Regions from separate parts of the Homo sapiens genome. Here region 2 is linked to region 1. The links come from fine-mapping of genetic effects on gene expression. A gene starts in region 1. The other region holds a variant in brackets. All regions are shown on one strand. Distances are between the middles of the regions.

Region 1 (2,924 bases):
AAAACATCGGAGGCCAAGGTAGAATTGGGTGTGTCCTGCCAATCTTTAAATGAATAAGGCTATAGGAGTAGTATTGCTTCCTGAAGTAGTCACAATCTTTTCTTTGCATTATTTTAATTCTATTTATGTAGCATTAAAAACTGAAAAGAAGTTCTATGTAAAATGAGAGCAGAGAAAATCATGTTGTCTGAATTGCAGCCCTAGAAAATTTCATGAACCTATGACTTGTTTTTAATTTTTATCTACAAGTCACATTTGCTCATTTTTAACTACATGCCACATTTTATATGTACCTATGTATACATGTATTTATGTGTACATACCCTTTAATCCTCTAATCCTTGTTAAAAAAAAAATAGCCAGACAGGAATTAATAGTGTAGTTATCCCTATTTTATTAATGAGTAAATCAACGATTGGAAAGGTTAAGTGATTTGCCCAAGGCCACAGAGCTATAGAAGTGATTTGGAATCTCTCATACTCACACTTCAGAGATGAAGATTACTGTCTTCAAAAGGCATGAAGGGTAATTCCTCAAAATTAGACATATACCAGTTTACACTAAGTATCACTTGCTTAATGAAGGAGTTAACTAGACAAAATGAGTGAGATGTTATAATTCTAAGTGACATCAAAATATAGTTGATAGGAAAACTTTTTTTGAAATTCTACTATATTTCATGACTGGGAGTTAGGTGCAGTTTATTTTGTCTAACTGCCAACATAATTTTACCTGGTACTAATTTTACCTGGTTCCTGGTACTAATAGATCAATTTGTGGAATTTTGATCTTTTCTGTGACCACACACTGTACTCAGAAACAAGTAAATATAAGCTTGAGAAATACAGGCCTTTGACCCCAAAATTCCAAGACAGGACATGAAAAGAGAGAGCAGAGAAAAGTCATCCTCCTTATTGGGCTATCTCAATTAAGTAGCTAAGTTTCTACAGTATTTGGAGGACTACTATGAGCTACCCACAAAAGAACTAGGAATAAGGAAAACAAGGTAAACTTTCAAATAACACATAATAAAATGGAGTACAGAACTGCAAAGTCACCTGGGAGAAACTACTTGACTCCCAGGCCAAGGGTCCAAGAGTATAACCAGCAGCTTGTGTTTACCATAATCAAAGGAAAAGTAGAAACTGGGTGGCCATGGGAGACTGGCCTACAGTCCCATCCATCACAGAGGGTTGGCGTGTGCTCACCCATTCAAGGACCAATAAATGAGTATCTCTTTAAGAGCAGCTCCTCCCATTTTTCAACAATCTTCCTAATATGTAGGCTCACTAGAACATTTTCTCTTTCAAACTGCCCAGACGGTTGGACAGGACGTAGACACACAGAAGAAAAGAAGACAAAGAACGGGTAGGAAAATTAAAAAGGTAGGAGGCTGAGGCGGGTGGATCACCTGAGGTCAGGAGCTTGAGACCAGCCTGACCAACATGGTGAAACCAAATCTCTACCAAAGATACAAAAATTAGCCAGGCGTAGTGGTGCATGCCTGTAATCCCAGCTACTTGGGAGGCTGAGGCAGGAGAATCACTTGAATCTGGGAGGCAGAGGTTGCAGTGAGCCGAGATCACACCATTGTACTCCAACCTGGATAAAAGCGAAACTCCGTCTCAAAAAAAAAAAGAAAAGAAAAAGAATAAAAGGTGATATAGTAAAGGGTTGAGGGTGGGATGGGTAAATGAAGAAGGAGCATGCTGTAGTTTTATACCAAATATGGCTAGAATGAGAATGATATAATTCAGGCAGTTTGTTTGTTTCTGGGAATCACGGATCATGATGTTTAATCATCCAAGTCTATTTCCCTGCATAGCTATGTGATTTTGTCTAAAAAGAAAAAAAAAAGTAGTGAAAGAAGTAGTGGTAGAGCCTAAAGACAGTGTCAGGAACAGAAAAAAGTTAGGAAACGTAATTTTCTTAGAGGGGAATGGACGCTGAAGGTAGTGGGAAAAAATTGTTTTTAGGTAAGAACATGACTTCTTTCCCCAACACCCCCCGGAGAGAAGGTCTCACTCTGTCACCTAGGCTACAGTGCAGTGCTGTAACCATAGCTCACTGCAGCCTCAAACTCCTGGGCTCAAGCGATACCCCAGCTCAACAGGACTATATAATCCCAGAGTAGCTGGGACTATAGGTATGCACCATTTACTTGTCTTTTTAATTGAGAAGGTGAAGTACATTATTGATGGGGAGAAGGGGTGACTACCTGGCACACTGAAATACAGACATCTTCAGACCTTGTTCCTCATTATCCGTATCTAAGTAAAAAGAAGATACAGATTGCGTGTGTGTGTGTGTGTGTGTATGACTGTGTGTGTGTATACATATACATATGTGTTTCTTCATTCCCATATACAGGCATATGTATGTGGGTGGGTGGGTGGATGTGTCTACAGGTGTTTTAGTTGCGAATCTTTATTTCTTCTGCTTACTCTTTTTGGTAGACAGTAAATGACAAAGTCCAAAAGCAAAAAAGATAAATATGTATGCTGGGTCATCAGTCTCTTAATTTTGGAGAGCTGATGACTAAAAACAAAGTGCTTATTTTTTTTTCAGAAGAAAACTTTCTCTTTAGAAATTAGAGAGAAATGAAAATGTAGTTAGATCACTAAAAGGAATTTGTTTTCTAGAGACAAGGTCTTACTCTGTCACCCAGGCTGGAGTGCAGTGGTACAATCACGGCTCACTGCAGCCTGGAACTCCTGAACTCAAGTGATCCTACCGCCTCAGCCTCCTGAGTAGCTGGGAGTACAGGCATGTGCCACCACACCCAGCTGATTTTGTTTGTTTTTTGTTTTGTTTTGTGGAGACAGGGTCTCACTCTGTTGTCCAGGCTGCTTTCAAACTCCTGGGCTCAAGTGATCCTCCCACCTCAGCCTCCCAAAGTGCTGGGATTACAGGCGTGAGCTACC
Region 2 (2,924 bases), 20 kb after region 1:
TGTATTTTTAGTAGAGACAGGGTTTCACCATATTGGCCAGGCTGGTCTTGAACTCCTGACCTCAGATGATCTGCCCACCTAGGCCTCCCAAAATTCTGGGATTATAGGCGTGAGCCACCATGCCCGGACTCCTTTAGTCTCTTCTTGTCTAGTTCCTCTTATAACAAATGCCTTGAAGTGATATGGCATATAAAAATTGGTTTTAAAAAAGACAAAGAAAGCCTGAAAACTACACTATTATGGATTAGCATAACAGAAGGGGAAGGAAAGGAAACTGACATTTACTGAGCACATACTATCTGCCAGGTAACGTTAGCCATGTGACATAGTTTATCACATCGAATTAACGCTTACACAAATTTGATGAGGCAAATTCGATTCTCTCCATTTTAGGAATGAGGGAACAAGATTAGAGAAGTTAAAGGAATTTTTTCAAATCACATCATTAATAAGTAGGAGAGCCAGCGTTTGAGCGTATGGTTTTCTGATTCCAAATTTCTCACCTTCTTTCCAGATAGTAGCAGGCATTTTGCTTTAAAATGCCTATTTTGAGATCATAATTGCTTATTTGTAGACAGCAATAGTTAGATAAGTGCTAGGGAAAACGTGACTAGAATTCAGTTATTAGTCACCTGTAGCAGAGATTGATTAAAATATGAAAATTTGCCTGCAGCACTGTGACAGGGTGGCTGACCCTAAGATGTAGATGTAAAGTTCAGACGTTTATTTGGGAACACTCTCAGGATCAATACTTCCACAGGAAGGGAAGGAAGCTTCCATTTACTTTGAAGCTGGGATGGTCCTTTGGCATTGCCCCAATTTGAGGTGAGGGACTGGGCCTTTATACGCCCGCATTGACCAGTCACTAGATGGAGGAAACTCAGAAAGAGTAGAAGATGTTGGGTGAGGCCCCTCTCTTCAGCCAAAGCAATGGTCAAAAAGGACTGACAGCTGAGAGATGTCTTCTGACACCACTTTCTGCAGCTGGGGTAATAGATCCATTCCTCAAGAGGGATCTGGGGTGCTCACCAGAATATCCACTACAAATGGTCACTAATTTCATGGTTGAATTGGTGTTTTTTAAGGTCATGATCAGTTCCAGAAGTGGCTCCTGGGTGATGAGCCGGGTCTGGGACAATGGTTATCCTTGGGACATGCTGCTCGTCACTCGATTTGGAACCTTCCTCAAGAACAATTTACCGACAGCCATCTCTGACTGGTTGTACGTGAAGCAGATGAATGCAAGATTCAAGCATGAAAACTATGGCTTGATGCCTTTAAATGGGTAATGCAGAGCTAAACGTGATATGCCTGCTGGCTTTTAGTTCAGTGTCAACAACCCTTAATGTCCTGTAAGCCCAAAACAAATCAAAGTATTAGCAATCACAACTCATATATCAGAAGATAAAGAACTGCACAAATTAAGAGTGATTTCCTATTTTGCAATCCTCCTTACTATATTTACACAGCTGGAAAATTATATAATGCCTCAGGAATTAGTCCCGGGAGTAATGATAATCAAAGTTAACCTCTTTTAAGCATTTTATACATGTCAGAGATTTAGCAAGACTCTGCTAAGGCTCTGGCATATATTATTTCATTTTATCCTTACAATTATGAAGAGAGCTCTACTAGTATCTCCATTTTAGAGATGAGATAACTGCGTTTCAGTGTAGTTAATAACTTTACTAAGGTCCCACAGCCAGGAAGTAGAAGCAGCGTTCAAAACAAACCCAGATCTGCTGATTCTAGAGCCTCTCA[G/C]TCTTGGCCACTTGCTCTACTACCTGTCACTTAATGGCAAAGTTAAGCACATCAGGAGAACGTTTCATGTCCTACCTTTCCCTCTTCGTTTCATCACCCACCCCTTAATGGACCCCCTCTCACTAAACACATACTTACCAATGCTTGCATCTTCAGTCTCCTTCCCATCTTCTCCTATAACGTCCTCCAAGCCAGTAACATAACAAGAAATGACTTTGACAAGAGGTGAAAAACCCAAGTTACGAGCTGTTTTCATCAAAGTGAATTCATTAATTTGACAAACATTTATTACACGTTTATTATATGCCACATCCTGTGTTTAGCCCTGTGGATATAGTAGTGGACAAAACATGCAAAAATCCCTGTCCTCATGGAACCTACATTCTAAGTGGTGGGAAACAGACAAACAATAGCATAAGATCATATGGCGATGTGTGCTTTGGGGAAGAAAACAAAGCAGATAAAGGTAATGGCAAGTGCTGTCAGGACAATTTCCAATAGAGTCCTCAGAGTATGTCTCAGGGAGGAGACTTTTAAGAAAACCTCTGAAGGAGTTGAGGGAATGAGCCATGAGGGTCTCAGGGGAAGGGTATTCCAGACTGAGGACACAGCCAGGGCATTTACGGGCAGGGCTGGCATGATCAACAAACAACAATGGGGCTTCTCTTCCTTGAGAAAAGAGAATGAGGGGAGAATGCCAGGAGATAAAACCAGAGACATAAAAATTGTTGGATGGCGTGGGCCTTGTAGATCATTGTAAGGACTCTGGCTTTTACTCTGAAAGCAATGGGAAACTACAGCAGGCATCTGAGCAAATGAATTACAAGACCTAAATTAGCATTGCAGAGATTGATCGGCTGCTGTGGTCATCATTCAATGTAAGGGTAGGGCAAGGAAGGAAGTGAAAGGACCAGTTAAAAAGCTACTCTCAAAAACCTGAATCAGAGGGGATGTTGGTCTGGACCAAAATTGTTAGCAGTGAGTGGTCAGAATTGGGCAGATTTCTGGATAGCTTGAAGGTCGACCCAAATAGGATTTTCTGTGGACTGGATAGAGGATGAGAGAGCAAGGAGGGAGTAAGAATGTCTTCAAGATATTTGAAAAAGGATGACATTGACGTTTACTAAAATGTGAAAAACTGCAGGAGGAACAGAAGTTCAGTT

Which allele goes with the higher level. Alleles are on the strand shown, and positions count from the first base shown. SD is a standard deviation of normalised expression in the study named.
For the expression in stomach of the gene that starts at base 1,309 in region 1, C is the high allele of the variant in region 2 and G is the other (moderate effect, 0.59 SD a copy in GTEx).

Evidence for each region. PIP is the estimated chance that this variant, and not a neighbour inherited with it, causes the effect.
Region 2: its variant is fine-mapped to the expression of FMO3 in stomach (GTEx, PIP 0.98). The same link has a PIP of 0.9 or more in transverse colon.

Annotation. Positions count from the first base shown.
Region 1 is chr1:171,089,597-171,092,520 of GRCh38, forward strand. It overlaps FMO3 (flavin containing dimethylaniline monoxygenase 3), which reads left to right and starts at 1,309. Exons shown (of 9, transcript NM_001002294.3): 1 at 1,309-1,385.
Region 2 is chr1:171,109,713-171,112,636 of GRCh38, forward strand. FMO3 (flavin containing dimethylaniline monoxygenase 3) reads left to right here. Exons shown (of 9, transcript NM_001002294.3): 6 at 1,086-1,285. Among named protein-coding and RNA genes, the nearest start is that of MIR1295A, 9.4 kb to the left of the region's middle. The variant G/C (reference allele first, on the strand shown) is at 1,762.